Linked DNA regions of Homo sapiens: all the other regions are linked to region 1. The links come from fine-mapping of genetic effects on plasma protein levels. Region 1 holds a variant in brackets. A gene starts in each other region. All regions are shown on their reverse strands.

Region 1 (5,149 bases):
ATCTGATGGTGGTAGTGAAATTCTTGGATATGTTCTTGAGAAACGGGATAAAGAAGGCATTAGATGGACAAGATGCCATAAGCGTCTGATTGGAGAGTTGCGCCTGAGAGTAACTGGACTCATAGAAAATCACGATTATGAGTTCAGAGTTTCTGCTGAGAATGCTGCTGGACTTAGTGAACCAAGCCCTCCTTCTGCTTACCAAAAGGCTTGTGATCCTATTTATAAACCAGGACCCCCAAACAACCCCAAAGTCATAGACATAACCAGATCTTCAGTATTCCTTTCTTGGAGCAAACCAATATATGATGGTGGCTGTGAAATTCAAGGATACATTGTTGAAAAATGTGATGTGAGTGTTGGTGAATGGACAATGTGCACTCCACCAACAGGAATTAATAAAACAAACATAGAAGTAGAGAAGCTGTTGGAAAAGCATGAATACAACTTCCGTATCTGTGCTATTAATAAAGCTGGAGTTGGAGAACATGCTGACGTCCCTGGACCTATTATAGTTGAAGAAAAATTAGAAGCACCAGACATTGATCTTGACCTAGAACTAAGGAAAATCATAAATATAAGGGCAGGTGGCTCCTTAAGGTTATTTGTTCCTATAAAAGGTCGTCCTACACCAGAAGTTAAATGGGGAAAGGTGGATGGTGAAATCCGAGATGCAGCTATAATTGATGTCACTAGCAGTTTCACCTCTCTTGTTCTTGACAATGTCAACCGATATGATAGTGGAAAATATACGCTTACATTAGAAAACAGCAGTGGAACAAAGTCTGCCTTTGTTACTGTGAGAGTTCTGGACACGCCAAGTCCACCTGTTAACCTGAAAGTCACAGAAATCACCAAAGACTCAGTATCAATTACATGGGAACCTCCTTTGTTGGATGGGGGATCCAAAATAAAAAATTACATTGTTGAGAAACGTGAAGCCACAAGAAAATCATATGCTGCTGTTGTAACTAACTGCCATAAGAATTCTTGGAAAATCGATCAGCTCCAAGAAGGTTGCAGTTATTACTTTAGAGTCACAGCTGAGAATGAGTATGGTATTGGCCTTCCTGCCCAGACTGCTGATCCAATTAAGGTTGCAGAAGTGCCACAACCTCCTGGAAAAATAACTGTGGATGATGTCACCAGAAACAGTGTCTCTCTGAGTTGGACAAAACCTGAACATGATGGTGGCAGTAAAATCATTCAGTATATTGTGGAAATGCAAGCTAAACACAGTGAGAAATGGTCAGAGTGTGCTCGAGTAAAGTCTCTTCAGGCAGTAATTACCAACCTAACTCAAGGGGAAGAATATCTTTTTAGAGTTGTTGCTGTAAATGAAAAGGGGAGAAGTGATCCTCGGTCCCTTGCAGTTCCAATAGTTGCCAAAGATCTGGTAATTGAGCCAGATGTAAAACCTGCATTCAGTAGTTACAGTGTACAGGTTGGCCAAGATTTGAAAATAGAAGTGCCAATTTCTGGACGTCCTAAGCCAACCATTACCTGGACTAAAGATGGTCTCCCACTGAAGCAGACCACAAGAATCAATGTTACCGATTCACTGGATCTCACCACACTCAGTATTAAAGAAACTCATAAGGATGATGGTGGACAATATGGAATCACAGTTGCCAATGTTGTTGGTCAGAAGACAGCATCCATCGAAATTGTAACTCTAGATAAACCTGATCCTCCAAAAGGACCTGTTAAATTTGATGACGTCAGTGCTGAAAGTATTACATTATCTTGGAACCCTCCATTATATACAGGGGGCTGCCAAATCACCAACTACATTGTTCAGAAAAGAGATACAACCACCACAGTATGGGATGTTGTTTCTGCTACTGTTGCTAGAACTACACTCAAAGTGACCAAACTGAAAACTGGTACAGAATACCAATTTAGAATATTTGCCGAAAACAGATATGGACAAAGCTTTGCCTTAGAGTCTGATCCAATTGTAGCTCAATATCCCTACAAAGAACCAGGCCCTCCAGGTACACCATTTGCCACAGCCATTTCCAAAGACTCCATGGTCATACAGTGGCATGAACCAGTCAACAATGGTGGAAGCCCCGTCATAGGTTACCACCTGGAGAGAAAAGAAAGAAACAGTATTTTGTGGACAAAGGTCAACAAAACTATTATTCATGACACCCAATTCAAAGCACAGAATCTTGAAGAAGGCATTGAATATGAATTCAGAGTGTATGCTGAAAATATTGTTGGTGTAGGCAAAGCAAGCAAGAATTCTGAATGCTATGTAGCCAGAGATCCCTGTGACCCACCAGGAACCCCAGAACCAATAATGGTTAAAAGAAATGAAATCACTTTACAGTGGACCAAACCTGTGTATGATGGTGGAAGTATGATTACAGGCTACATTGTAGAGAAACGTGATTTGCCTGATGGTCGTTGGATGAAAGCTAGCTTTACAAATGTCATTGAAACTCAATTTACTGTGTCAGGTCTTACTGAAGATCAAAGATATGAATTCAGAGTCATTGCAAAGAATGCAGCTGGTGCAATAAGTAAACCCTCTGACAGTACTGGACCAATAACTGCCAAGGATGAGGTTGAACTCCCAAGAATTTCAATGGATCCAAAATTCAGAGACACAATTGTGGTAAATGCTGGAGAAACATTCAGACTTGAGGCTGATGTCCATGGAAAGCCCCTACCTACCA[T/C]TGAGTGGTTAAGAGGAGATAAGGAAATTGAAGAATCTGCTAGATGTGAAATAAAGAACACAGATTTCAAGGCTTTACTTATTGTAAAAGATGCAATTAGAATTGATGGTGGGCAGTATATTTTAAGAGCTTCCAATGTTGCAGGTTCTAAGTCATTCCCAGTAAATGTAAAAGTATTAGATAGACCAGGACCTCCAGAAGGGCCAGTCCAGGTTACTGGAGTCACTTCTGAAAAATGCTCTTTAACATGGTCTCCACCACTTCAAGATGGTGGCAGTGACATTTCTCACTATGTTGTTGAAAAGCGAGAAACCAGTCGACTTGCCTGGACTGTTGTTGCTTCAGAAGTTGTGACCAATTCTCTGAAAGTTACCAAACTCTTAGAAGGTAATGAATATGTTTTCCGTATAATGGCTGTCAACAAATATGGTGTTGGAGAGCCTTTGGAATCTGCACCAGTACTAATGAAAAATCCATTTGTGCTTCCTGGACCACCAAAAAGCTTGGAAGTCACAAATATTGCCAAAGACTCCATGACCGTCTGTTGGAACCGTCCAGATAGTGATGGTGGAAGTGAGATTATTGGTTACATTGTAGAGAAAAGAGACAGAAGTGGCATTCGATGGATAAAATGTAATAAACGCCGCATTACAGATTTGCGTCTAAGAGTGACAGGATTAACAGAAGATCATGAGTATGAATTCAGGGTCTCTGCAGAAAATGCTGCTGGAGTTGGGGAACCAAGTCCAGCTACAGTTTATTATAAAGCCTGTGATCCTGTGTTCAAACCTGGCCCACCTACCAATGCACACATTGTAGACACCACTAAAAATTCAATCACACTTGCCTGGGGTAAACCCATCTATGATGGCGGCAGTGAGATCTTGGGATATGTAGTAGAAATCTGTAAAGCAGATGAAGAAGAATGGCAAATAGTTACTCCACAGACTGGCCTGAGAGTCACTCGATTTGAAATTTCAAAACTCACTGAACACCAAGAGTATAAAATACGAGTCTGTGCCCTCAACAAAGTTGGTTTAGGTGAGGCTACATCAGTTCCTGGTACTGTGAAACCAGAAGATAAACTTGAAGCACCTGAACTTGACCTTGACTCCGAATTAAGAAAAGGAATTGTTGTAAGAGCTGGTGGATCTGCCAGAATTCACATTCCATTCAAAGGTCGTCCAACGCCTGAGATCACTTGGTCTCGAGAGGAAGGTGAATTCACAGATAAGGTCCAAATTGAAAAGGGAGTAAACTATACCCAACTATCAATAGATAACTGTGATAGAAATGATGCTGGAAAATACATTCTTAAGTTGGAAAACAGCAGTGGATCAAAGTCTGCTTTTGTAACTGTGAAAGTTCTTGACACTCCAGGACCACCACAGAATTTGGCAGTCAAAGAAGTGAGAAAAGATTCTGCCTTCCTGGTATGGGAGCCACCCATCATTGATGGAGGGGCAAAGGTCAAGAACTATGTGATTGACAAACGTGAGTCAACCAGAAAAGCGTATGCTAATGTGAGTAGTAAATGCAGCAAAACAAGTTTTAAAGTGGAAAACCTTACAGAAGGAGCCATTTATTACTTCAGAGTCATGGCTGAAAATGAATTTGGAGTTGGTGTTCCAGTGGAAACTGTTGATGCCGTGAAAGCTGCTGAACCTCCTTCCCCACCAGGAAAGGTTACACTCACTGATGTGTCCCAGACCAGTGCATCACTTATGTGGGAGAAACCTGAACATGATGGCGGTAGCAGAGTCCTGGGGTACGTTGTTGAAATGCAGCCCAAAGGAACTGAAAAATGGAGCATTGTGGCTGAATCCAAAGTCTGTAATGCAGTTGTTACTGGTTTGAGTTCTGGACAAGAATATCAGTTCCGTGTCAAGGCTTATAATGAGAAAGGAAAAAGCGATCCAAGAGTGTTGGGTGTTCCTGTCATAGCCAAGGACTTGACTATACAGCCTAGTTTAAAGTTACCATTTAACACATATAGTATCCAAGCTGGAGAAGATCTTAAAATAGAAATTCCAGTTATAGGCCGACCAAGACCTAACATTTCTTGGGTCAAAGATGGTGAGCCTCTTAAACAGACAACAAGAGTAAACGTTGAAGAAACAGCTACCTCAACTGTTTTGCACATTAAAGAAGGTAACAAAGATGACTTTGGAAAATACACCGTAACGGCAACAAATAGTGCAGGCACAGCAACAGAAAATCTCAGTGTTATCGTTTTAGAAAAGCCTGGACCTCCAGTTGGCCCAGTTCGGTTTGATGAAGTTAGTGCAGACTTTGTAGTCATATCTTGGGAACCTCCAGCCTATACTGGTGGCTGCCAAATAAGCAACTACATTGTAGAGAAGCGAGATACAACCACCACCACTTGGCACATGGTATCAGCAACAGTTGCAAGAACAACAATTAAAATAACCAAACTGAAAACAGGCACGGAGTACCAGTTT
Region 2 (5,149 bases), not on the chromosome of region 1:
ACTCTTCTAATGTAAACAATATTAAAATGCAATTATTTCACTAAGGAAAGCTTTTCAAGGTACAGTTCCTTTAAGAATCAGTTCTGCTGGTAAGGGAACCAAAAAAATCTCTGTACTTCCTCAATGGATTTTAAATATATCAGTAACTCTTCTTGCCCCAATCCCCATCATCCAAATTTACACTAACCAAAGAATTTATGGGTATAAAATTACTGTCCTGGGTGGAGGAACTCCTACACAGAATAGCAACATGCTTTTATAGCAAAAGAAGATGATGGAGTCTTTAGCATCCATGCTGTTTTATTCAGAAAGAAAAAAATATATATTGGGGGGGTGGGGGCTGAAGTTAAAGATATATTTTCCTCTTTGCAGCTCTATAATTTCATTCCCCATAAAAGAGTGAATCAGACTGAGTTGTCAAATGAAAAGTAAACTTCATCGCCTTTGCGATCAGAATAATTTAATTAGCTTTATTGGCTCTTACAGGCTGTCACCTTATTTATTGGTTTTTCAGCTTTCTTCTCATTTTCAATTAGGCTTTAAAAAAACAAATGCAAAATCATTCACTAAATTCAGAATAATTAAAACAATATTGTGTTTCCAGTTTGGAAACATGGTAGAATGTATTGCTTCTGGGTACACTTCGGAGAGGTTAAAGTGACAGAGCAGATAAAAAGGACACTTAGTACACACGTAAATCATTTGCATTACAAATAAGATACTTTAGCAGGGGTTGGACTCCCTGCCTGACAGTCAGGATTAAGTTCCCATATTAATACATGCATTTGGTGTGGTTATTTTGGGTGAAAGACTTCATCCATCAATGCCCTCTGCCACTAAGTAAGGCCAACCTGTAAACTGATCACCACAGCCTGTCAACACTGGTTACTTAATTATATAAAGAAAATATGTTTAAAAGACTTTTGATAATTTGGTTAGTATTTCAACATCTTTTTCAAGGTTCCTTAAAATAATAGCTAAAGCATTTTTAAGAATTAAAAACTGAAAACTATGACTATTTTTATGTTTCCTGCTAATCTTTCTTTTTCTTTTATTTGCAGAAGGGAAAAATAAAGATTCAGTAAGCATTAATGAAGATGAATATAAATGAAATAATATTTTTAAAAGATATTTTAATTAAAAATTAAATTCAATGCATGCATAGTATTAATTTGTGCTTATTATTATTTATTTTCATAACTACTAATTCCAATTTACTTCTGTTACCAATTGGTAGCTTTAATACACTAATTTTTTTATAGAAAGGAGAAACTTTGTTAGGGAAAACATTTCTTCTAAGGAAGAATATTTTTATACTTTCAGCTTAACTATTCTTAAAGCCTACTACATATTATGAAATTCTCTACAATAAAACTCATGAAAGAACAATCTATTCATGATATTCAGGGACATCCTTTTTTATCAGGTGTTTGGTTTTCTTTCCATGCAAGAATTTAATAACGAACCTCCAAAGGCACTGATAAGAACAAAAAAAACCCTTCGTCTGTATATTTTAAATATGTTTCCATTAAAAAAAGTAGCAAATATGGAAATAATGTCACAAATTCTTTTTTGAAATCTTGATCCAATGTATTAACCATTTGAGAAAATATTTTAAGTCTCCTACTCTCTGCAAATTGCAAATACATGGTAAAAAATTTGTGATTAAATCTAAGAAAATATGCTTGAAAACGTAATCTGTTTACCATCAGCAATTAACATCCTTAAATTACACTTTAAGGATTCTTTACAATTGAATGATAGAATTATCATTTGATAATTTTAGTCAATATCCCTTTAGAAACTATCGTTATCAGAAATTTTTCAATTCAATATACTCTCGCTGTATTTTTCCTCTGGTCTGTTTAATCTAAAAGATCGTTTCCTTAAATCATAGTGATTTTATTTTCTCATCTAGTTAAGATATTTGTTATTTGTTTGAAGATAAATACCAAAATAAACACTTTATTCAGGAGTACAACAAAAAGATTTCTAGATAAGTCTTACCCTCTTTCTTAGTGGGTTCTGGCATGGCCACAATAAGATGTTATTCTTTAAAGAGTCTCCTTCCCTCCACGACTAGTTGACAGAAACCCCACAGGCAGGCGAGAGATGGTGCAGGTCGGTGTGACAAGCAGTTGGGGAGAAACCCAGTGCTTTTATACTGCCTCTGAACATCAATCATGATGGCACCTCCCTTTCTTCAGCACAAGGATGCAGGAACTTGACAGCTATGGGGACCTTTCTCACATCTGTTGTCTGCACTCTGCTCTCTCGCCTACTGGAAGGAATCTCCTGCCCATCTCATGTGGCTGATGAGAACACCTCTAACTTTCTAAATTCAGCTGCAGCCTCGTGCTCCGTCTTGCTCTTCTCTCTCTGACAGATGCATGTGCTGACTCAGGAGTGCAAAAAGTTTGCTGGATGATTAAAAAAACAAATTAAAAATCATAATATGCCAATCCAACCTATACCTTAATTTTCACTAAGATTAGGCAGAAAAGTCTTTGTATTCAGATGATCACTTTTATGCTCCAATTAGCTTTTCATTTTCATCAGTCCTTAATTATTGCATTTATATTTTTTCTTATTCCTCATTGATATGTCAATATTAATTTTTCAAGCCAAATCTCTAGGTTAAATAACTTGTCTCATGTTCTTCTCTAAGAATAGCAAAGATTTCTATTAGGGGATACTCTGCGTTTGCATTTTTTTCCAAAAACATCATTTTTCAAAATTATAGGACATATAAAAGAATGAGGCAATGACACATGCTACAACGTGGATGAAGCTTGAGAACATTACACTAAGTGAAAGAAGTCAGTCAGACATACAAACGTAGACTATAAAATAATAGATCACTGCTGGGCTCATGCCTGCAATCCCAGCACTTTGGGAGGCTGAGGGGGGTGGATCTCCTGAGGTCAGGAGTTCGAGACCAGCCTGAACAACATAAAGAAACCCCGTCTCTACTAAAAATACAAAATTAGCTGGGCATGGTGGTGCATGCCTGTAATCCCAGCTACTCGGGAGGCTGAGACAGGAGAATCACTTGAACCCAGGAGGCGGAGGTTGTGGTGAGCCGAGATTGTACCATTGCACTCCAGCCTATGCAACAAGAGCGAAACTCCATCTCAAATTAATAATAATAATAATAAAAAATAATAGAACACACATTGTACAATTCCACTTATATGAAATATCTAGGACAGGCAAATCCATATGGTGAGAAAGTATATCAGTGTTTGCCAGTGGCCTAAGGGAGGTGGAATTGGGAGTGACTGCCAGTGCATATGGGGTTTCTTTTGGTCATGATGAAAATGTTCTGGCATTAGATAGTGGTGATGGTTGTACAACTTTGTGAATATATTAAAAACCACTGGATTATACACTTAAAAATATATATGGAGGCTGGGTGCAGTGCTGGGGCCTATAATCCCAGCATTTTGGGAGGCCAAGGTGGGAAGATCACTTGAAGCCAGGAGTTGGAGACCAGCCTGGGTAACAAACCAAGACCCTGTCTCTACAAAAAATAAAAATAAAATAAAAAGATATATATGGGGCCTGGGCAAAGAAAGTCAAATAGACTAGTAGCTATTGTTTTGATTCAAGTGATTCAATTGGAGGGTACACAAATCTAACTTAAGATGTTGAAAGACTGTAGTAGATGTGGTCACTTTCTCCCAAAACGCTCATGGAACTGATAGAGAAATAGGAACTACCAAGTAGTCAACCTGAAGAAGACACCTTACTTTCTTTGTTCACATGCACTAGGACTAACCTGAGTTTATATGAAAAGACAACTACACACATGCCTTTATTGGTGTGTGTTTTCAAGATAATTTTCAAAAACTTTGATTGATTGGTACTGAAGCAGCCACACTGTCTCGTCTAATTTCCCTTGTGGCTGAGAGTGCAGCTGGTCAGACTTAGCTCTACCAAACTCTGTGCCAAGCTGACTTTTCATATAAGGGTGGAAACTAGACTTAGAACTCAATAGCATCATGCTTTAGTTATGTGGCGGGGAGGGGGAGGAAGCCAGTCAAGATGGTAATGAACATCTTTTATAAAGACAGCCCCTCCTTAACCACATTATACTACTGAACACATTTTTGTACTTTAAAAAAAAAAAACGTTCCTTTGCTGAGTCCGCTCTGGGGATATCAATTAATAGATGAAACATATGAAAGAACCTAGAATCTGAAGTTGGTCCCTTGGGTTCTATTTCTGGATCTATCATTAACCAGCTTAGTTACTCTGAGAAAGTCAGGGGGCTTTCTGGGCCTCAGTTTCTTTTTGTGTAAAATGAGGGGCTTAAAAAAAATGATCTTGGAGGCTGCTGATAGGTTTAACACTGTGATTCTACTTGGGAAATCTCTAAGAGAGAATTGTTTTTTTCAGCATTCCCAGCACACTGAACACCACATATGAAATGGACATAGGGCAGAGTGTCATGTTGCATAAGAATGTTTACAGCGAAGGGCAGATTTCACACATGCCACAAAAGAGGTGCCATGCCATCATTGGCTTCTGCAGAAACCCCATTGGGTTTTTAATACACTGATCGTCTTACTGAAGTGAACATATGCCAGGAAATATTGCAATCCACAGAGAAAGTATTTTATGACCTGGGGAACTTTTTGGTAATAAAGGAATTAATTATAAAAAGGCAAAGCATTATTATAGGAATTGGAAGTATGGACAAATTCTAGGACAAATTATTGTACAGTGTATCAGGTGGTTAAGGTAAAATTTTAAATTAGGATAACAAGTAGACTTGTGTAATTTTCCTAGGGCTATATTGTTTTAGGAATACATAACTCCTATTTCAGATCTTATGCATTCATCTAGAAGGTTGCAGATGCCTTAGCTGTACTCTCAGGAAAGACAGGGGGATGGTCAACAGGCTTTTGTTTCTTTTGCTAAATGCTGTATTAGATTTTTCCTTTTGTATTATTGAGGATGAAGTTTGTTCAAATACAACACAAAACTACAAAATACCAACAGTTGAATCAAGATAGAAGTATTTCTCCCTCATATAAAGCAAGTCTAAAAGCAAATGGCTTAGAGTCATACAGTGGCTTCACAGTGTATCCAGGAAACCAGACTCCTCCTTCTTGCTCTACCATCCTCCTGGTAACCTCATGGT
Region 3 (5,149 bases), not on the chromosome of region 1:
TTATAGGTTTGAGGGTGGGCCTGTGGGTGAGTCCTGGGGCACTGTTGTTCCCAAGCCAGCAGGGACATGCCCAGAATCAGAGCTCAGGCAGTCACCATCCTGGCCCTAGCCTTCATCTGGGTCCTGATGAGGGAGTGAGGATGGCTCTGTGCACCCTGTCCCTGCTGCAGGACCACGTTTGCCCTGTGTGTGACAGGAGGGGCCCAAGCCACTGCCTTGACTCTGCCACACACAGGTGGAGGAAGGTGGCACTATGTGGCTCTGGCTGGCTGCATGAGCCTGCCCATCCCAGATCACAGACCTGGACACTGAGGCCCAGGATGCTCTTGTCACTGGCTTACCCCCATTTGGGCCAACGTTGGGTGGTTTCCAAGGGGTGGTAATTGTGTGAGGATGAAAGAAATGAGATGGGAGAGAGGGCCCTGTATATGTCCTCTGCTCTGGCCCTCTGCTTCCCTCATGATGAACACAAGGAAATTGGTCTTGTTGGCGGTGTCTGTGGGTGGCTGGGGCTCCCGTGTGACTTCCAGAGCCCGTTGTCCTGAGGGTCGGCAGGCCTGGGTGGTGGGGCCTCCCCGGGGCCCCTCTGTGTGGCCCTCTGGCTGTCTTCTCCTCTTGTGGTATTTCTGGCTCGTCTCCACTGACCATCCCCCCACCCCTTTCTTTCTCAATACTGTTGCCAAACATTTGGAAGAAAAGTGAAAAACTTGCCCCCCCGCCAGTCCCGGATGTTGTCAGATTTCCAGATGTGGGTGTTCTGCCCTCCAGATGAGAGGCAGAACGTGTTCCAGTCAGGAGCGGGCTGGCCCCAGCCCTGGACTGCTGTCCCTCCCTGTGAGGCGGAGTGACAGGATGAGAGGGACTGGGCCCAGTAGGAAGACAGCAGGGCGTGCCAGGTAGAGGCCCTGGGCCCCACAGCACCTCTCAGCCTCAGGCTTAGCCCCTTGCCACACCAGGGAAATCCCTGGCTTTGAAGTTTCTATCAAAGGCTCCAGGCACTTAAAAGTAACCAGGAGCACCTCCTTCCCACCCCCCAGGCACAGATGCTGGGCAAGGAACAGAGCCCAATGTGTTTACAAGATGTCCCCACTGTTGGCGTCCCCATGCGGGAAGAGCCTTGTGCCACCTCAGCCCTCCCACCTCCCCAAGTGGCAGTCCCGTCAGGCTGTACTCTGTCACTGTCATCTGCTGAAGGCTGGGCTTGGGATGGACCCTGGGGGCCGGGCACTGCAGGATGGGCACTGGGGGTGGGCACTGAGTGGTAGGAACAGGGAATGAGCATCACTGCACTGGGGCAGACCCTGCTTGGCAGCTTGGGGTTCCTCAGAGAGGCAGACCCTCTCAGAGCCCCTGCCAAAAGGGTCGGCAGAGGGCAACATGTGGCAGTGGAATAGCATTGGAGAGAGCTTTCTGGAAGAGGGCCAGTAGAGCCAAGCCTTGAATATGTCAGGCAGAGGGGGCGAGGGCACTCTGGGCAGAGGGTGCAGTGGGGAGCCAGGCCTGGGGTGTGTAGGGAAATGTGCATCCCTGGGGCCTGTAGAGAGGGGAAGTAGGAATCTAGGGGTGAAAGCTGAGAAACTGGTCCCTGGGCCAGCAGGGGCTGAAGAGGGAGGCTGCTGAACTGGCCTGGGGCGACTGCCCTAGAGGGAGCAGCATCCTTTCTCTTGCCCTTTGTGGGGGTTCCTGGAGACCCTTGGACCCATAGCCAGGGCTACAGCTGCCTGCCATGACCAGACACTCACATACAGACACATGTAAACACCCAGACATAAACACACAGAAGCAACACCCGCAGACACACTCACATAGACACATAGACACACCACGCACACATAAAGACCCAGACCCACAGAGACAAATGCAGACACCCGGGCCATCCCTTACATAGACACAGATACGGAGCACACATAGGCACGCACAGAGCCCCCCACCACGGAGGCACCCAGACAATACACACAGGTGTACACAGACCCCCCTCCACACAAACACAGACACAGAGAGACCCACAGACACATAGACACCCCGACACAGACACAGACAACACACACAGACACATGCTGACTTCCGCCTTCCCCCACATGGACACGGTCATAGACACAGACACAGACACAGGGGACTTTGGAGAGCTTAAGTTCAGAGGTGCCCTTAGATCATCCCAGTCCTTCTGGCCCCAACACAACACGTAGCATGTACTTGGTCCACCCTTCTTCACCTCTTCAACTTACGGACCTGCAGAGAGGCAGCAGGGCCCTGTGTGGGTATGTGCGGGTGTGCAGATGAGTGTGTGTGTATGTGTGTATGTGTGTGTTAAGCAGTGGCCTTTGTCCCCCTCTCTCCCTCCCCCTTCCCAACAGGTGATTGGGAGGAATGGAGATCCCTCCTCCACTACCCATTCCTGAGCCTGAACAATGCCCTCCCCAGGCCCCAAAATAGCCCCTAAGCCTAGCCATATCCTTTTATGGCCCTGTCCCTATTGTGCACTGCAGGGGTGGGGCTGGGGTCATGAGGTATCCGGGCAGGATAAAGGCCTGGGTGAGGCGGCTCACCTACCCTGCTTTCTGCATTCTTCTCTCCACATCCCTCTCTGTACTTACAGCCCCCAATGGCCCCCAAAAAGCCAGAGCCCAAGAAGGATGATGCCAAGGCAGCCCCCAAGGCAGCTCCAGCTCCCGCACCTCCCCCTGAGCCTGAGCGCCCTAAGGAGGTCGAGTTTGATGCTTCCAAGATCAAGGTGGGTATGGAAGCTGGGTGGTGGCAATAGGAGCAGGGCAAGTGAGTGGATCCCAGAGTGGACCTAGCAAGAGGCAGGTCAGGCTCTGGAGGTGAGCACTGAGCTGACGCTGGAAGCTTCTGTGCAGAGGTCAGACAAGCCCTGACTGCTTCAGGCATCAGAAGGGCTGCAGCAGGAGGGATGGTGGTCAGACGTTCTGCAGGACTCCTCTGGTGCTGCTGAGAACTAAGGTGGAGTCTAGACTGGGGTTTGAGTCTGGACTGTCTTTTTAGTGGTTTTGGAAATGGACTCTCCCTTGCCCTTCTTCCTGGACTTCTCATCCTTGGGGAATCCTGGAGTCAGCTGGAGCCAGGCAGGGATTTTCCTTGTTCAGCTGAGGGGTCCCAAGTCCATACACGCTCCCAGCGTGGATGAGATAGGGAGTAAGAAGAAGCAGGGCCCCTGTCCAGGCTGGGTCTCGTTCAAATCACCGAGCCCAGAGCTGGTAGAGCACTTCCAGGCCTCAGCTTTTAGGTAGGGAACTTGAAGCATCAGCTGGCTGGGGACATTCTGAAAGCTGTGCAGGAAGCTGGTCATGGAGCTATGACCAGTGGCCCCAGGAGCCCTTCCCCAACTGCAAAGTCTTTCTCAGAGTCTAAACTTGGAGGGAGCCATGACTCCCACCTGTGGTATCTGCATAGCAGCACGTACCCTGTGTCCTGCCTGCTCCCTGTTCTTGGCTGGGACCACTGCTGCCCTGGCTGCCTCCTCAGGAGCCCTGTGGAACCCTCGCCATCCCTGCATGCCCAGCAGGACCTACATTCCATCGGTGAAGTCTTGCCTCCTGTTCATGAGCCCTTCCCAGAGACACCTACCATGTCCTTTGAGGCAAGGGTTCAAATCCCAACTCTGCTCCATTTTAGTTGCCAAGTTCTTCGCTGCTCTGAGGCGTGGTTTCCTCAGCTGTGAAACAGAACAGCAAGTCCCCTCTTGCAGGGCTGCTGGGAACCATTCAGAGTATATGCACCTGGAGTTGGCCACCCAGGTCCCAGGCTTGCATTCTGCAGGCCTCATGGTGAGGCTGTGACCACAGCCACGGCCCATAGTGGCATTGTCCTTTCTCGCCAGGCCTTAGGTTGGCACAGACTTCCTTCTGAGAGGTGGGGACAATGAGACCCCTCATGCGCCCTCTTCCCCCATCCCCAGGTTGCAGGTAAAGGGCAGGGAGCCTTTGCCAGGAGCCCAGAGACCCTAATCTCAGTAGGCTTCCTGGTGGAGAGAGCTCTCAGGGAGCCAGGAATGACAACCTGTTCTTCCCAACACTGGGTCAAGCCAGAAGCCAGGAGGGACAGTCATGGTAGGGTGGCCCTGAACAGGGTGTCCCTCTGTGCCGGCATGCACTGTGGAGATTGGTGGGGCTCCGTGGCAGCAGCCATGAGAGAGACGCCAGTCATGCCCCTCCCCCAACCTCCTTTCCCTTGTGTGACCTTGACCTTGGGGCGAGTGACTGCAGTGATAAAAATAGACCTGGTATCCGGTGAGGAGGGGGACACTGGATCCCGGGAGGCCTCTTGATTGACGTCAATCAAGGTGGCCCCAATGTGACTTCAGCAAACACTCAGCAGCACTGCCCTGGCCCTGTGCTGTCCTGGGGTGTGGGAGCTTCCCAGGGACCTACGGACAGGGTGTGTGAGAAATAGGTATAGTGGGGCTGGTGAGTGACTGCCTGGTCTTTAGGGCTTAGGGGGCTCTGTGAGGGCAGACGTATGTAGACACATGCTCACACACAAACATGCACACTTGTGCTCACCCTCGATGCTTCCAGCCACCAGCCCTCGGCCTGTACCATTGCCCTTACTCCTTCTACCACCCTGGGCCCTCCCATCTCACTTTTGCTGACAGTCCTGCCCACCAGGCCCCAAGCAAAGCCAGCCTGACTGGGGCTTGTGGCTTAAGGTACATCTGTCCAGAACCGGGAGCATCAGGTAAGGCCCACGCTGGCCTGAGGCCTTGGGCATGTGGCCTCCCTCCTCACTGCTACCCCTGCCAGGGTCCACCGAGCATCAGGGCCTCGGTGCACACAGCCTCAAGGCCTTCTGGCTGGAGAGGTGGAGGGGGGCAAGGAGGCAGGAGGGCGTCAAGATGGACTGCAGGAGGTCCTGGGGGTGCAGGCTGGGATGCTGGAATGGGACAGGCTGAGACAGTTGACATTCTGGGCTGGCCACCGAGTGCCCAGGAGGAGGTGTGGCCCCACCTTTTAAGCCGGGCATCTGAGTCTTTGGGGTCTCTTTTCAGATTGAGTTCACACCTGAGCAGATTGAAGGTGAGCAGGGGTCTTGAACCCAGGGGTTGCAGGATTGGGCTGGGGTTCCCTGGTCTGAGGGTCCTGCCAGGGGTGTGGGGAGTGGGGTAGGCTGACCCTGGGAGTGTCTGTGGCTC
Region 4 (5,149 bases), not on the chromosome of region 1:
AAAAAAAAAAAAAAATGGAGACTCAGAATGGCTTAAGTGAATTGCCCAAGGCCACACAGCTAGTACCCAACAAAATTCAGATCAGAACGCAGATCTGCCAGCAGCCATTAGCCCAGCCCCAGCTCTCCATCATTGCATTACAAGGGCCACATAAGGAGTCAGTTCTAGTTCCTGGCCACACAGTCCTTGAGAGGAGGCCCTATGTGTGAGGGCTGCGACCTTGAGTCAGAAATCATCTTTTCCCCCTCCTCCTCTCCTGGCACCTGTTCCAACAGTGAGATCACCAAGGCTCCATGCCCAGCCCTGAAGCCTGTCCCTATAGCTTTGGCAGAAATGAGCCTCTGAGTCTTCTGGCAACTGGACCGTCCAAAGGAATCAAGATCTTAGGGTGGGGAGAGGGCTCTTCCTCCCTGGCCTTGTTCTCAGAACAGTCCAGGGAAGGGAGGCAGGGTTTGCACATGGAGAAACAGAGTCCCAGGAAGGAGGGCCTGCCATACTCTACGCACGTGGCAGGCCTCTGGGCTCCTGTGTTGGCTCCTGCAGGCCCACCCTGGACAGGCTGCTGCTGGCTGAAATTCAGTTCGGCACTACTCCTTGGTGTGCAGGGCCTCCTGCCATCCCTCAGAAATTCATTTATACCTCACTTCCTTTGAGAAGTCTACATTGGGCCCTCAGGTCAGGACAGGACAGGACTCCCTTTAGAGGCACCACGCTAGTTTTATGTCTGGCTGCCCAGAGGTGAATGTGTGTCTTGTTCCCTGTTGTCTCTCTCCAAAGCAGGGCCTGGCACAAAGTAGGTGCTTTATTAACTGCTGAATTAATGAGTGAGCTCCTCAGAGCTTCAACTTGTTCACCTTTTTAAAAAGAGAAAATAATACAGTAACACCTACTTCATGGATTTTGCTTTAAAAGTCCAATGAGGCCAGGTGTGGTGGCGTGTGCCTATAGTCCCAGCTGCTGGGGAGGCTAAGGTAGGAGGATCCCCTGAGCCCCGGAGTTTGAGGCTGCAGTGAGCTATGATGGCGTCACAGTACTCCAGCCTGGGAGACACAGCGAGAGACTTTGTCTCTAAAAAATAATAATAAAATAAAAAGTTCAATGAAACAATACACCCAAAGCCCTCAGCATGCAATAAATAGCAAGACAAGGCAGGTCTTATTTTTACTGAAAGTGCTTAGTAAACTATACAGTGACAAACCACCGCACAACAGGCTCTCGAAAGGAGGCAGCAAATTACCCAAAAGTGCAGGCGGCTTGCTAGTGTGCACAGGCCAAAGAAAGGGCGGCAGGTGGGGAAGGCAGCCATGGGCCTTGAAGAGCTGACCGAATTGGCAGAATTTCTGCAGGAGGGGAGCTGGGAACGACCTGAGCTAAAGCTCGGAGCTGTGCGAAGAAACCGGAAAAGCCCAGAGCACTTGCAGGGGCGGGTGGGGAGCTAGATGGTGGGGTGGGGTGGGGACGGAGGAGGGCCAGCAGGAGACATTCCGCAGGGAGGGGCAAGCACGTGTGAGGCGGGCGGGGCGCGAAGGGTCAGGCTTTTGCTCAAAACAGGCAGAGGACAAGGTCAGCTCAGCCGCAGACCGAGCCGCTGGTGACTGTCTCCGCCACCAGGCAGTGAGAGTGAAGGGAGAGCGCGAGCTCTGAAGCCCGCTAGACTAAGCTTGCAATCTGAGCTCCATTCACCCCCTCCTATTTCTTGAGACCTTGTCAGTTCCCCTGTGAGCCTCGGACTCCTCACTTGTAAAACGAGGACAGATGCCCGTGCCAGAAGTCAACCAGAGCTTTCCCCGGCGTGGGCACCAGCCCAAGGGCGTTTTGCTTTTCTAGTCTCATCTCTGCTCTGACGCTAAGCTCAAAGAGGGACTGGGGGACGGGAAGATATCCACCATGGCATGCGCCCTAGCTCTCGGGCTGGTGTTGGCTGCTTCCTTCTCAGATTCCAGAGTGCCTAGAGGCCAGGAAAGGGAGAAGGTCCTACCAGCCTGGGGTAGGGACTCGGGGGCCAGGCACTGGCGCTGACGCAGGCTAGCAGGGCGCCACTGGCTGGTCCCCACCCACCTCGGTGGGTTGGGGGATGGGCGCACCAGCCCCTCCTGGGTGAGCCCTAGCCTGGGGCTTCCTATTTCGGGAGCCGGGGGCGTGGGCCACGTCTCCTCATGTGATGCGAGGGCTATTTAAAGCGGCAGCCCGGGCAGGGAGCCGCCGTCGGAGCCCTTGCACGCCTGCTCTCTTGTAGCTTCTCTCAGCCTAGCCCAGCATCACTATGGTGGACGCTTTCCTGGGCACCTGGAAGCTAGTGGACAGCAAGAATTTCGATGACTACATGAAGTCACTCGGTGAGCAAGCCGCGGGGCTCAGGATGTTGGCTTGGGGACTGGCTGGTGGCGTGCCTAGCCCCACGCAGCACTCCTGCCGCATCCCTCCTGGTTAAGACTGGGGAATAGGGGAGCGCGGAGATGGCAGCCTGGCCTAGAGCAGGTGGGGCCTGTTCAGAGGGGGCTTTGGTGGTCCAAATCTGGTTAGAGACCACGGTAGGGAGGTGGTGGAAGGAGGCAGCTGTGTGGGAGGCTCTTTCCAGGAAGAGGGATATGTGATTTGGAGGTAGGAGGAGGGTTTGGATAAAGAACACTGATCACAGGAAAGGGAGTGTAGCCAGGGGAGAAAAAGAACAGGGGCATGGGTAGTTTAGAAATTGGAGGAGACTGAACCCAGAAAGGGAATGGGGCAGCCAGGGAGTGTACAATGATGTAAACAAGTAGGAAATACCTAGGAGGAAAAAGATTAGTGGGGAAAAAACTGTGGATCAGTGAATCAGATATGAGAAGGACGTAAGACAGGAACCTGCAGTAAGCAGCAATCCCCATCTCTGCTTGGTTAGGGAAGAGAATTCTTGCTGGAGAATGCCCTTTCTCACCAGCCAGTCTGACCTTGTCCTGCAGTCTATGTATCCAGGCCTTCATCACTGTCTGTGAGCCTCGTGGTAGGGTGGGGCAAGAGGCCCATGATCAGCTGGGCCTTTCCTGCAACCCAAGGCTCACCTATCTGTGCGAGGGGTAGGCAGAGAAAGCCATTGGACTTCTGATGTGCAGTAGAGGGTCCCAAGGCAAGGTCAAGACCTGGGAGGGAGGATCACTGGTTTAGGAGGATGTGGAGAACTGCTGTGGTGTTGGGATGGAGAAGAATCAGGATTCAAAGAATCTCACAGGTGAGGAACTTGGAGATTCCCATACCATCTAGTTCAACAGGGAAACTGAAACCAGGAGAGTAGAAATGTATTATAACAATTCCACAGCAGAGCCAATATGAAAATCTAAGGTTTCTAGATCTGTAACCCAGAGCTCTTCCCACTACCCTACAGGCCCTGCGAGTGGGAAGAAAAGTAGAAACTGCTTAGCTAATGATTGACCTCAGCCCTTCTTCTACTGCTTTGGGCTTAGATGGAGAGGTCAAAGCTCTCAACGGCCTCTACCCTATCTTGGGCGCTATGCCCAGTAATTCTAGGCAGGCAGTCATTCTTAGAGGAGCAGCCCCCAGCCCCCACGAACACAGCCCAGCAGCTATTGGGAAGTTGGAATGCCCAGATTTAGTTCCTCCTTCCAAAGCTGGGCCAGAGCTGAGTCTTGAATTGAGCTGCAACAACTTTACCATTCTTGTTCCCTTATTCTGCCCCGAGTTGGGTCAGCGGGCTGGTCTCCCTGAAGTCCTGTTATCTTTCAGCAGCTTATGTTAAGGCAGCCAGCATTCTCATCGTAGGAATGGAAAGCCTGGGAAAATACCCTCCTCAGCTCTCAGTAAGTAGTGCTGGCTTCATTTCTAAGTAGAACCCAGATCTCCCTGAGTCTCCTAAATTCTGTCAGCTCAATATTCTTAGTTTCTCTTGGTTCAGACCCTCACTCATCCCGCAGTGGTTTCCTTTTCAAACACTCCATACCTCTGGGTAGATCCTAAGTGAACAGAGCTCCCAGTGCCGTGACAAGGTCCTGCTCTGTGCAAGGGAGTGTGATTGGCCTGACTCATCCTGATACCAAGGGGCAATGCCAAGTTCCTCACTGGCCAAGCAAGGGTGGGCTGACAGCATAACAGCAGAGGCAGCCCCTGCCCCTCCTGCTGTAGACCTAGGGCTCTCAAGGGGCAAAGAGGTCCCGTCTAGTACCAGTGACCACAGGCACAACTGCTGGCCTGGATTGAGTATGTGCTGGACAGAATCGCCCAGTGAAAATAGTCAACAGTTTTGGAGCCGAGGTTCAAATCTATGTCAGTAGTTTATTCTCTTTGAATTTCGACAAGACACTTCGCACTCTTCATTGTAAACTGGGGATAATCTACGCTTCGAGGCTGTTACAAGCATTAAGTAAAACAACCCATGTAGGGCATGTGCAGAGTACCTAGCTTCCAGCAAGCACTATGTAGCCAGGTACATTTGGAGACTTTACACACACCACCTCACTACACTGGGCTGCCTCCTGCCTCACCTTTGCCTTGGAAGACAGTTCAATGTTAAGCTGCTGGGGGGAGAGGGGGCAGTCATGATTAGTTCTTTGTTCTTTACTTGGTTGCAGGACACTTAGGACTTTGCCCAGTACCCAAGGAAGCCATGCTTGGGTCAGGAAGAGAGTCTCTGTAAAGCCTTAGACTGGGAGTCAGGAGACGGGTTTGAGTCTAACTCATTGTTGCTACCGCTTTAGGCTCCTCCTGAATCTGCACAATAGGACAAATACTTCCTTTGTACCTAACTCCTAGATCATAGATAACAGGCTTTGAAAATGATGGGTTGCCATGTATAAGGGACAAGAGCACTAACACTTCTTAGTTTCAGGGTAAAAACTTCCAAAGTTGGAAAACTCCTATGCCTAAGGCTTTGGAAGGGAAAGTCTATGTTTCTCTTCTTTCCTCAGCCTTATTCCTAAGGCTTTGAGAGCTTTTCAGGTGCCCTGGAAGGCAGCCTTATGCTCCAGCCTTGGGAGGTAGTATAGCTGAGCACTTAAGCAAGCTCTGGACTCAGACAATTCTGGGCTTCAATCTCAGATTTGTGACCCTGGGCTTTACCTCTGTTTTTGTATCTGTAACGTGGAAACAGTCTTCAGAAGAACAGGAAGAACTAAATGAGATAACATGTACAGTTCTTACTACACAAAAAGCTCATAGTACT

Which allele goes with the higher level. Alleles are on the strand shown, and positions count from the first base shown. The strength of an association depends on the size of the effect and on how common the allele is.
For the plasma level of the protein whose gene starts at base 2,132 in region 2, C is the high allele of the variant in region 1 and T is the other (weak association).
With allele T in place of C in region 1, the plasma level of the protein whose gene starts at base 2,549 in region 3 is lower (weak association).
In carriers of allele T in region 1, the plasma level of the protein whose gene starts at base 2,202 in region 4 tends to be lower than with C alone (weak association).

Evidence for each region. A credible set is the group of variants that fine-mapping cannot tell apart. PIP is the posterior inclusion probability: the model's chance that the variant is causal. The UK Biobank Pharma Proteomics Project read protein levels with antibody pairs (Olink). The fine-mapping took linkage between variants from a reference panel, not from the people measured, so its PIPs are less certain.
Region 2: MYBPC1 starts here. The variant in region 1 is the best candidate, but not a certain one, in a credible set for the plasma level of the MYBPC1 protein (UK Biobank, PIP 0.78).
Region 3: it holds the start of MYL3, and the variant in region 1 is the best candidate, but not a certain one, in a credible set for the plasma level of the MYL3 protein (UK Biobank, PIP 0.74).
Region 4: it holds the start of FABP3, and the variant in region 1 is the best candidate, but not a certain one, in a credible set for the plasma level of the FABP3 protein (UK Biobank, PIP 0.54).

Annotation. Positions count from the first base shown.
Region 1 is chr2:178,564,997-178,570,145 of GRCh38, reverse strand. It overlaps TTN (titin), which reads left to right. Exons shown (of 363, transcript NM_001267550.2): 326 at 1-5,149. All of the region lies in intron 1 of TTN-AS1 (TTN antisense RNA 1), which reads right to left. Among named protein-coding and RNA genes, the nearest start is that of TTN-AS1, 44 kb to the right of the region's middle. The variant T/C (reference allele first, on the strand shown) is at 2,688.
Region 2 is chr12:101,591,954-101,597,102 of GRCh38, reverse strand. It overlaps MYBPC1 (myosin binding protein C1), which reads right to left and starts at 2,132. Exons shown (of 32, transcript NM_002465.4): 1 at 2,008-2,132. The coding sequence starts at 2,032.
Region 3 is chr3:46,860,844-46,865,992 of GRCh38, reverse strand. MYL3 (myosin light chain 3) reads left to right here and starts at 2,549. Exons shown (of 7, transcript NM_000258.3): 1 at 2,549-2,731; 2 at 5,006-5,033. The coding sequence starts at 2,603.
Region 4 is chr1:31,370,129-31,375,277 of GRCh38, reverse strand. FABP3 (fatty acid binding protein 3) reads left to right here and starts at 2,202. Exons shown (of 4, transcript NM_004102.5): 1 at 2,202-2,336. The coding sequence starts at 2,264. It overlaps LOC124903892 (a long non-coding RNA gene), which reads right to left and starts at 979. Exons shown (of 2, transcript XR_007065573.1): 1 at 891-979. RefSeq lists a silencer at 1,722-2,016.